2 separate regions of the Homo sapiens genome follow, and region 1 is linked to region 2. Evidence: fine-mapped expression QTL. A gene starts in region 2. The other region holds a variant in brackets. All regions are shown on one strand. Distances are from middle to middle. Region 1 has its middle 23 kb from the start of FXYD5. Region 2 holds the start of FXYD7 (FXYD domain containing ion transport regulator 7).

The links. PIP is the estimated chance that this variant, and not a neighbour inherited with it, causes the effect.
Region 1: its variant is fine-mapped to the expression of FXYD7 in whole blood (INTERVAL, PIP above 0.99).

What each region holds. Positions count from the first base shown.
Region 1 is chr19:35,175,277-35,180,641 of GRCh38, reverse strand. No RefSeq gene overlaps it. Among named protein-coding and RNA genes, the nearest start is that of FXYD5, 23 kb to the right of the region's middle. RefSeq lists a silencer at 4,635-4,791. The variant C/T (reference allele first, on the strand shown) is at 2,474.
Region 2 is chr19:35,141,015-35,146,379 of GRCh38, reverse strand. FXYD7 (FXYD domain containing ion transport regulator 7) reads right to left here and starts at 3,125. Exons shown (of 6, transcript NM_022006.2): 1 at 3,016-3,125. The coding sequence starts at 3,046. FXYD1 (FXYD domain containing ion transport regulator 1) reads right to left here. Exons shown (of 8, transcript NM_021902.4): 4 at 5,174-5,248; 5 at 4,808-4,844; 6 at 3,859-3,908; 7 at 3,609-3,660; 8 at 3,271-3,463. The coding sequence ends at 3,638. RefSeq lists enhancers at 2,342-2,903, 2,904-3,464, 4,588-5,150 and silencers at 4,785-5,004, 5,115-5,244.

The DNA of each region.
Region 1 (5,365 bases), 34 kb before region 2:
TCTGAGTGACTGCCTTGCCACTCCATGCTATGACCTATCAGTGTACCCTTCATTACTGAAAACAAGGTCATTAATGGCTTTCAATTTAATTAGAGAACCAATTCTAGAAAAACCAGATCTCGGCCGGGCGCGGTGGCTCACGCCTGTAATCCCAGCACTTTGGAAGGCCGAGGCAGGTGGATCACAAGGTCAAGAGATTGAGACCATCTTGGCTAATACGGTGAAACCCCGTCTCTACTAAAAGTACAATAAAATTAGCTGGGCGTTGTGGCAGGCGCCTGTAGTCCCAGCTGCTGGGGAGGCTGAGGCAGGAGAATGGCGTGAACCCGGGAGGCGGAACTTGCAGTAAACCAAGATCACGCCACCACACTCCAGCCTGGGTGACAGAGTGAGACTCCATCTCAAAAAAAAAAAAAAAAGAGAAAGAAAAACCAGATCTCATTGTTAAGATTCTGGCCTTCTGGAACCACTCTTAGTACCAAATTCTGTATCAGCAAAGCTGAACCTTTAATACATATGTGGGCGTACACACACACAGTTTGCTACACGAATTTGACCTTCAACAATTGTAGTTGCTAGTGAAGCTCTCTTTGTAGGGCTGTTGTCTTGATGCTGGAACTTGAAACCCACAGGTGCAGGAAGTCAGGAAGGGAAGATTGAGGTAAGATTGGGGAGAGCACGGAACAAGTTAGAACCCACAAGCACAAGCTGGAGTCCACAAGGATGGACTGAATCCTATGTTAATTCTTTTTCTTTTTCTTTTCTCTTCTTTTTTTTCTTTCTTTCTTTCTTTTTGTTTTTCTTTTTGAGACAGAGTTTCACTCGGTCGACCAGGCTGGAGTGCAGTGGTGTGATCTCTGCTCACTGCAACCTCTGCTTCCCAGGTTGAAGAGATTCTCTTGCCTCAGCCTCCCGAGTAGCTGGGATTGCAGGCATGCAACATCACGCCTGGGTAATTTTTGTATTTTTAGTAAAGATGGAGTTTCACCATGTTGACCAGGCTGGTCTCGAACTCCTGACCTCAAGTGATCCACCCGCCTCGGCCTCCCAGAGTGCTGGAATTACAGGCATGAGCCACTGCACCCAGCCCCATGCTAATTCTTGTTGTCTATGACCTTGGTGCTGTGGGTGTCTTGCTAGAGTCATGGTCCTTCATCACGGGGCTGAGCACACATGTCTGGCCCAACAACTGGGGAAGCTGAAGGAGGATCCAGCGGAAGGTGAAACAGTTGCAGCCCTGGTTGCTGCCTTATGCCAATGAGATGAGCTGTCTGATAAGTGACAACTGGTATAAGCTGCGAAATGTCCGTGGCTTCACCTCTACCCAGCAGATCCCTGACAAGAATGTCTCTTGTGGTTCACCCTAACCAGAAAACACAGGCATCTAGGGAAAAAGATTCTGGGAAGTGTAGTTTAACCTGGCCAAGGTGATACATTACAAAGCCACCTCAGGCGATGTTTCAAACCCTGTTTAACCTCCCACCATCAGCAGCTGGAGTCCTTGACTCAATAACTTCTTGAGAAGCCAACAGACTTTACCGAAGCAATCATTGGAGGTCATCCTCAACACCTCCAAGAAAAGCACAATCTAGTGTCAGATGAGAAAAGGCAGATTCCTTCCAGTTAATGTGATCTGGCCTCAATTTCAAAACAAGAACCTTGACAGAATTGTACTCAGGAGGCTAGCTGAATTACAACATCCACTCCATTAGCTCCTGGCAAGATATCTCCCCTGATGTAAGGGTGGAGGAGGAGGAGGCTTCACTTCAGACCATGATGCCACAGAAAAAGATGTCTTTTGCCAGAAAGGGATTGGGTAGCATTGGAGAGCATTGGAGGCGCTGTTGAAGTGATGTCTGGAAGTCTCTATCAAGTCTGAGAATCAGTGCTGCTGTCCTCTGGAAGTTTCAAAAACGACCAGTTTTTTTTTTTTTTTTGAGATGACGTCTCACTCTTGTCACCCAGGCTGGAGTGCAATGGTGCAATCTTGGCTCACTGCAACCTCCGCCTCCTAGGTTCAAGTGATTCTCTTGCCTCAGCCTCCCGAGTAGCTGGGATTACAGGCATGTGTCACATGCCTGGCTAATTTTTGTATTTTTAGTAGAGATGGGATTTCACCCTGTTGGCCAGGCTGGTTTCGAACTCCTGACCTCAGGTGATCCACCTGCCTTGGCCTCCCAAAGTGTTGAGATTACAGGTGTGAGCCACTGTGCCTGGCCAACCCCCAGTCTTAACAGTTATCTTTTCCTTTTACATTGGAGTAAAAATGACTTGAGGCTCCATCTCCTGACTTGGTGGCAGCTCCCCATCCTTCTCAGCATCCTAATCAACAAATTCCTGAGGGCAATTATTTTCCTTGATGGTATTTGGGGTGTCACGGACTCAGCTAAAAGACCACATTTCTGTGTCCTTTGCAATTAGAGGTAGCAATCCGAAGGAAGTAGAAATCTTTGGGAGGGAGTCTTGGGAAGTC[C/T]CTTTAAAAGGAGCTGAATCACCTAGTGGTGCCTTTCCTTTCTCACTTTTTTTTCCCCTTCTTGATTTTTTTCCTGGAATGTGGCATGATGGCTGAGGCTTCTGCAGCTATTTTGTGATCTTGAGGCTTCAGGCCACATGCTTAGGGTGGCAGAGCAGCAAGTCTGGTCCCTTATGATATTAGGGATCCTCTTTCCCAGCCTTGCACTATGTACTTCAGAGTTCTGCTATGTGAGAGAGGAATAAATAACCTGTTTAAGTCGTTGTTTCTGGCTGTCTCCTGAAGCTGAATACAGTTTCTGCCTCTAGAACTCTTGCTATGTGAGATAATAAATGTCCTTTGCAGTAAACAATATTACTGCCCATCAATACCCAGTTCCCTTCTGATGTGGTTTGGCTGTGCCCCCACCCAAATCTTATCTTGAATTTTCACATATTGTGGGAGGGGCCCAGTGGAAGGTGGTTGAATCATAAGGGCAGGTCTTTCTCTTGCTGGTCTTGTGATGGTGAATGAGTCTCATGAGGTCTGAGGGTTTTAAAAAGGGGAGTTTCCCTGCACAAGCTCTCTTCTCTTGTCTGCCACCATGTGAGACGTGCCTTTCACCTTCTGCCATGATTGAGGCCTCCCCAGCCACGTGGAACTGTAAATCCAATAAAGTTCTTTCTTTTGTAAGTTTCCCAATCTCAGATATGTCTTTATCAGCAGCATGAAAACGGATTAATATACCTTCCTATAAGAAGATTGTAATGTTCTGTGCTGTTGAACTCAAATGTGCCCGTGTGATTTGCTTTCGATAATGACAATGTGAGCAGAAATGAGGTGTGTCCCTTCCTGACAGAGGCTATAAGAGCCAGTGTGTGTCTCACCTTGTTCCTTGTTCTGCCTTCTGCCTGCTATGATAACCAGAAACATTTCTTTTCTTTTATTTTCTTTTCTTTTAGACAGGGTCTCACTCTGGAGTGCAGTGGCGTGATCTCAGCTCACTGCAACCTCCATCTCTTGGGCTCAAGCGATCCCCCCACCTCACCCCTCAAATAGCTGGGACCACAGGCGCAAGCCACCATGCCCAGCTTATTTTTATTTAGTTTTTGAGACGGAGTGTCACTCTGTCACTCTGTCACCCAGGCTGGAGTGCAGTGGCTTGATCTCGGCTCACTGCAACCTCCGCCTCTCAGGTTCAAGTGATTCTCCTGCCTCAGCCTCCTGAGTAGCTGGGATTACAGGCATGCACCGCCATGCCTGGCTAATCTTTCTATTTTTAGTAGAGATGGGGTTTTGACATGTTGGCCAGGCTGGTCTCAAACTCCTGACCTCAGGTAATCCGCCTGCCTCGGCCTCCCAAAGTGCTGGGATTACAGGTGTAAGCCACTGCACTTGGCCTAATTTTTGTATTTTTTGTAGAGACAAGGTTTCACCATATTGGCCAGGTTGGTCTCAAACTCCTGAGATCAAGCGATCTGCCTGCCTCGGCCTCCCAAAGTGCTGGGATTACAGGTGTGAGCCACTGCGCCCAGCCCAGGCTTCCCCATCATCTTGGGTCCCATCCTAGCTCCTAGCTGAACCGTGAGGGACATGTAGTGAGAGCGAGAAACAAACCTTTGTTGTAAGCCACGAGATTTTGAGATTATTTGTGACTGTCAATTTTAAGCAAAATTGGTCTGGCTTGGCATAAGGAATTAGAGGTTGACAAGCTCTTTGGAAAGGCTGGTGGAGTGCGCTCTAAGTGAAGACTGCAAATGATTCCACAACATGAGCAGACTGACTTGCCCAAGGAGCTTCTCCCTCCACCCTAATCAGGAGCCCCCATTGTACACGTCAGCTTCAGCATCTGGCTGCTCTGTCTGAGATCCAGGGATCAGAAAATCATCACCACCCAGGACAGAACTGCCTATTTGTTTTCAATGTTCTTGTTTTGTATTGAGTTATAATTTACTGTGTTAGTTCATTTTGCATTGCCATAAAAGAATACTTGAGACAGTAATTTATAAGGAAAAGAGAATTCTTTGGCTCATGGTTCTTCAGGCTGTACAAGCACAGCACCAGCATCTGCTTGGCTTTTGGTGAAGAGACCTCAGGAATCTTTTACTCATAGCAGGAAGTGAAGGGATAGCAGGCGTGTCCCATGGCAAGAGCAGGAGTAAGACAGAGAGAGGGGGAGGTGCCAGGCTCTTTAAGCAACCAGCTGTCACGTGAGCTAAGAGGGCAAGAACTCACGCATGACCATGGGGAGGACACCAAGCCATTCATGAGGGATCAACCCCCATGACCCAATCACCTCCCACCAGGCCCCCCTCCATCATCGGGGATCACATTTCAACATGAGATTTGGAGGGGTCACACATCCAAATATCACTTACACATAGTAAAGTGTACAAATCTTTTTTTTTTTTTTCCTTTGAGACAGGGTCTTGCTCCATCACCCAGGCTGGAGTCCAGTGGCGCGATCTCGGCTCACTGCAACCTCCGCCTCCCACGTTCAGGCGACTCTCCTGCTTCAGCCTTCTGAGGAGCTGGGATTACAGGCATGCACCACCATGCCTGGCTAATTTTTGTATTTTTAGTAGAGACGGGGTTTCACCATGTTGGCCAGGCTGGTCTCGAACTCCAACCTCAAGTGATCCACCTGCCTTGGCCTCTCAAAGTGTTGTGATTACAGGCATGAGCCACGGCACCGAGCCCTCAAAACTTAAACGTACAATTTGATCATTCTGATCAATATATGGACATGTAATCTGCACCACTGTCATCAGGGCACAGAACATTTCAATCCTTCCAGAAAGTTCTTTCATGCCCCTTTGCAGTCTCTCCCCACCTCCTGCTGACATAGTAGAGGCCACTACTCTTCTGATTTTTATCACTGTTAATCAGTTTTGCATATTTCAGAACTTCATA
Region 2 (5,365 bases):
GGATCACGAGGTCAGGAGTTTGAGACCAGCCTGGCCAATATGGTGAAACCCCATCTGTACTAACAATACAAAAATTAGCTGGGTGTGGTGGTGTGCCGCTGCTAGTCCCAGCTACTTGGGAGGCTGAGGCAGAAGAATTGCTTGAACCCGGGAGGCAGAGGTTGCAGTAAGCCAAGATCGTGCCACTGCACTCCAGCCTGGATGACAGAGCGAGACTCTGTCTCAAAAAAAAAAAGAAGATTAATTTTCCAGTTGTGATGGTGCTATAAAATAAAGCTCGTTGTTTTCAAAAGCTAATCCTGGGTTGGGCATGGTGGCCCACGCCTGTCATCCTAAGCACTTTGGGAAGCCAAAGTGGGTGAATTGCTTGAGCCCAGAAGTTTGAGACCAGGCTGGGAAACATAGCAAAAGCAGTCTCTATGAAAAATACAAAAATTAGCTGGGTGTAGCAGAAGTGCCTTGTAGTCCCAGCTACTTGGGAGGCTGAGGCAGGAGGATAGATTGAGCCCAGGATGTTGAGGCTGCAGTGAGCTGTGATCGTGCCATTGCACTCCAGCCTAGGCGACAGAGTGAGACCTTGTCTCAAAAAATAAAAATAAAAAAGCTAATCCTTTTAAGGAAAAAAATTAAATAAATAGCAGTGTGAGGAATATTTGAATAAAGCAAAAATTGTGACGGTAGTACTCAAAAGCGCCAAGATGGTGAGACGCTGCTTCAGGGTCCCTTGTGCTCTGTGTAAGTTTCCCCACCAGAGAGTAAATTTGTTTGACTCATCACTGCTGTTCATCCTGACATTTATGAAAGGCTCTTCAAGTTTTCTGGGATGAATGAATGAAGGAATGATTATGAGGCAGTCCTAGGCTGCAGGAGGCTGTAAAAGGTGGATTGTCTCACTTGTCTGTTTTCCACACACCCGTCCTTCCCCAAAGTTATCGGGAGCCCACTGGGTGAGCCCCTGTCCCAGAATCTGGTGTTCCATGTGGAAGATCCTCCTCCATGCGGAAGATCCTCCTCTGGTCCCTGCTGCCCCGGCAACCTGGGCCCTCAGGCGTGGCTGGGCTAAGGGTGGGGCCAGGAGTCAGGCAAAGGAATGTGCACTACTCCTGGCCAGCTGCCAAAGAGATATCAGGAAGGAGGTGGTTGCTATGGCAACTGGGGCATCTTGGGAGGTGAAGAGAGGTGATAGGTCCCGCCACCCCAGGCTGGGTGGGGTCCCCTGTGAGGTCCTGTGTGAGATGCAGGTTTCAATCTTGACCCTCTCCCCTCCTTTTGCACCTCCTGCCGTTGCCCCTGCAGGACTGGCTTCTGGCCAAGCTAAGGGTCCATTTCAGGGATAGGGACCCGGACCCAGCTGTGCTCATGCATCCCTCTTCTGTTCACTCCTAACTCTCCCTCCTGTTCTCTGGCAGGGTGGAGGGAGACTCTCCCCTCTTCCCCCCTCGCTCCCCAACAATTCATTAATTAGTTTCCTTAAGCAGCTTGCAATGCACAACATGCTTTTCCTCCCCCGGGGTTTCCCGAGACCTGCGGTCCCCTGTCATGCTGTGACTGGGAAAGGGGGAGGCAGAGGAGGTTGGGTTGAGGAGTCTGTCCTCCCACCTCTGCCCGTCTGCTGCCATCGATCCTGCTAACCACCACCTCTGCAAAAAGAAGCCCTGGGCTCCCGCCAGGCCTGCTGCCTCAGCCCTGCCCCCCTCCCTAGGGTAGCTTCCAGCCTCTGCAGCCCCCCCCACCCCCCGCCCTGCTTCGGATTCTGCAGATATGGCTCAGTGCAGCAGCCCCCGCCTGCTGGGAAGCGCGGAAGGGAGGGAGCCATCCAAGTGGAATTCGGGTTCCCTTCACTGCCAGGGGCTTCTCAGCACCCCTGGTCCCCTGCCCTCAGTGCTGGAGACCCTTGCTGGGCACTGGCTCCCTCTTGAAGCAGTCTGTGCCTTGCTCATCTGCAGAAGCAGGATTAGCAGTGGGGGCTATTAGGGGGCGACGGTAGAAGTGGGTGTTTAAGTGGGTGCATAACTGGGTTAATTGGTGTGGAATGGAAATCAGTGTGTGGCTGGATGGGGGCAGTAGGGGCAGCTAGGTGTATACCCAACAGCACCTCTGGGATTGGAAAACACCCCTGCTGTGGGCTGGAAGGAGGGTCCCATCGCCCCATTCCCACACATAGGGTCTCACTGCAGTGGTTTGGGCCCCACCCCACATGGCTCCCTTCTTCTCTTTCTACTCCCCTCTCTCCCCATGGGTCCGTCTCTCTCCCTCCGTCTCTCTGCTTCTCTCTCCATAGCGGTCTCAATCCCACTATCTCCCAGGCTCTCATTTTTTTTTCTCTCTCTCTCTGCATCTCTGTCTACTGCTCTCAGCCTCTCCCCTCCACTGGGAATCTCTCTGAGTCCATCTATTTGTCTTCCTGGGTCTTTGTATCTGTGACTCTGGATCTCCTGCCTCTCTTGGTCTCTGTCTCTTCCAGGTTCTCCCTGTCTGTCTCTTGCTATATCCCTTCTCTCTGTCTCTTCCTTCAGCTCTCACTCCTTTCCTCTGAACCTGGCTGTCAAGGGTTTCAGGAAACAGACACCCTAGGAGACAGCACTGGAAAGAAGAGGGACATGAACCTCCTCCCCTTCCCTTGCCCACCCCAGGGACCCTGAAATCTTCCAGAACGTCTCTGGTCGCAGACCCACCCGCTCCCACCCTGCAAGCTCATCTCTTCCCCGTCTGCTACCACCACGGTGCGGGACCAGCCACCCGGTTGCCATAGCGACCTGTCCGAGCATCCCTTCTCCCGGGACTGCCACTCTCCAACCGCAGGTCTGGCACAGGACGCCTGCCGGGGAGGGGGTGTCCCAGAGACCCGGAGGGGCGATCGGGGGGGCGCATTACAGGGGCTTCCGCCCACAGGAGGAGCGGACCTCCCTCCCCCAACTCCCTTGCCTTACCATTGCTTGAATCTCCCGACACCCTCTCTCCTAGGCTCTCAGATCCCGGAGCCCCCCTGCAACCCCCTCCCCAAACGACGCTCACCCTTTGTGGGGGTCTGGGTCGGGGTCGCCATGCTGGGCCGGAGCAGGGGGCTGCTGGATGCTTTGGCGGCGAAGGCGCGCTGCAGCAGCTGGAAGCAGGACGGACCGATGTGGGGGGGAGCTGGGGGGAGCCCTGGCGTGGGGGGGCCTGCAGCCAATGGGGGCCCGGGGAGCCCGCCCCCGTGCAGGCCACCCCCGCCCCCGCCCCCGCCCACCACCGTCGTCCCCGCCCCTTCCTCTAGGGTGGGGCGCCCCCTGCTGGGGCCCAGTGGCGCTGGCGTTTCGCGCTGAGGGACCGAGACCGACAAAGTGCTGTCGAGAGGAACGCACGTTTTATTGGAAGTCTTGGCGGCAGGGGGAGTCTGCGGGGGCAGGGCTGGGGAAGGGGCGGCGGAGGGGGCGGTGGGCGCGCAGGTGGAGCGTGGGAGATGTCAGGTGCCAGGGGAGTCCTGTGAGGGTGAAAAGGGTGAGAGGCGAGGGGGGACGTCCAGCCCCACCCCTCGCCGCCCTTCAACTCTGGCACTTGGCCCCCTCCCTCTCCCGCCTTTCCTTCCTCCCTCCTTCCCTCCCACCGCCGTGTCAGAGCTGCAGCACCTGGCCGGATTCCATCGCTCCAGGTGTTTCTACCGCCTGCGGGTGGACAGACCTGGGGGGAACACGGAGATCGGGGGTCATTCTGGAGAGGCATCCCCAGCTCCTGGGCAGGTGGGGCCCGCGGCGGGGCAACTCCCCGCCCTCCGCTTTCAGATCCAGCCCTTCCCTCTACGCAGCCAGGGAGGGCCGGGAAAAGCGGTCCTTGGAACCAGCCCTCTCCCCAGAATACCCGCAGTCTCCCCAGACTCACGGCGGATGGAGCTGCGGAAAGTTCCCTCCTCTTCATCGGGTTCCCCAGTCCTGGGAAGACAGAGGCAGAGGGATTTCGGGATGGAAAGGGGGAGAGGCTGCCCTTCTAGGAACCCCCCAGTACAAGCCTCCTTTCCCAGATTGGTGTAACTAGGCCCAGATATGGACGAAGAGCAGGCTCGGGGTCCGCCAGAAATGAGGAGCACCCAGGAGCAGCTTATGTGCTGGCAGGGGGCTTCTAAGCTGGTTAACAGTGAGTACCTCCGCGGATTTGGGGGCAGGGATGTGAAGTTGGTGGGGGAGGGATAGTCATGGGGACTTGGCAGACTGCCATGAGATGGCCTGGGTTGGAAACCCAGAACCCCCCATCTTCCACTTGAGTGATCTTGAACAAAGTGACTTTACCTCCCTGTGCCTTAGTTTCCTCATCTGTCAAATGGGGTTAATAACAGCACCTCCCTCCCAGAGGAAGTGAAACCGTATCTAACACGTGGTACACACCCAGTAAATATTAGCTACTACTTATGATAATATCTATAATTGTTCTAACATATTCATACATTGTCCATGCTTTAACATTTTATTCGAAGAGGAATCAAAGAGCTAGGAACAAGACTCTAAGCTAAACTGGGCCGCGTGTGAGATGATCTCATTTCACCGCCGTTTCTTCTTTCCTGCACTTTGTGTTATCACGCTTTGTGATTTTTCTATCTGTGGGGCTGTTGGAACCCACGGCCACCGCCTCCACTAGGCTGGGAGCTCGGCCAGGAAGGGCGGGAGGTTTTTTCCTCGCTTGGTCCCAGGGCCAGGCTTGGGCCATGGCACATAGTAGGTGCTTAATACATAGTCGCTGACGGGGATCGGGCTGCGGGTCAGGGGTACTCCCCGCCTCACCCGCGGCGCCCTCCAGAGCAGGAGCGGGCGAAGGAGGGCGGGGAGGGGCGTCTTACCTCTGCTGCTGGTTGAACTTGCACCGGCATCTTCTGCCTGTGGGCGTGGAGAGGTAGGAGAAGCTGAGGCTCCCTCCCGGCGGGCGCCAAGCGGCGCTGTAGCTCCAGCTCGCCCTCGCGAGGGGCGGGGCTTGGGGGACGGGGCGGGGCTAGAGGCGAGACCGGGGGCCGGGGAACCAAGGCAGGGTAGGCGGGGCAAGGCCTGGGAGGGGTTGGGGCGGGGCGGGGCCAGGGAGGGGCGGGACCAGGGAGAAGCGGGGCCAGGGAGAGGGGGGCTAGGGAGAGGCGGGGCCAGGGAGAGGCGGGGCCAGAGAGAGGTGGGGCCAGGGAGAGGCGGGGTAGAGGGCGGGAGCTAGGGGCACTCACTCAGCACGATGAGGATGCCCAGGATGAAGAGGATCCCGGCGATGACGAGGCCTCCGATCTGCAGGGACTGGTAGTCTGTGAGCAGCAGAGCAGGGAAGGTGAGGGCAGGGAAGACAGGAGGGAGAATAGGAGAGGGGTAAATTGGGAAGGAGGGAACAGGGAGAAAGGACCAGCAGGCAGAAGGGGGGAAGT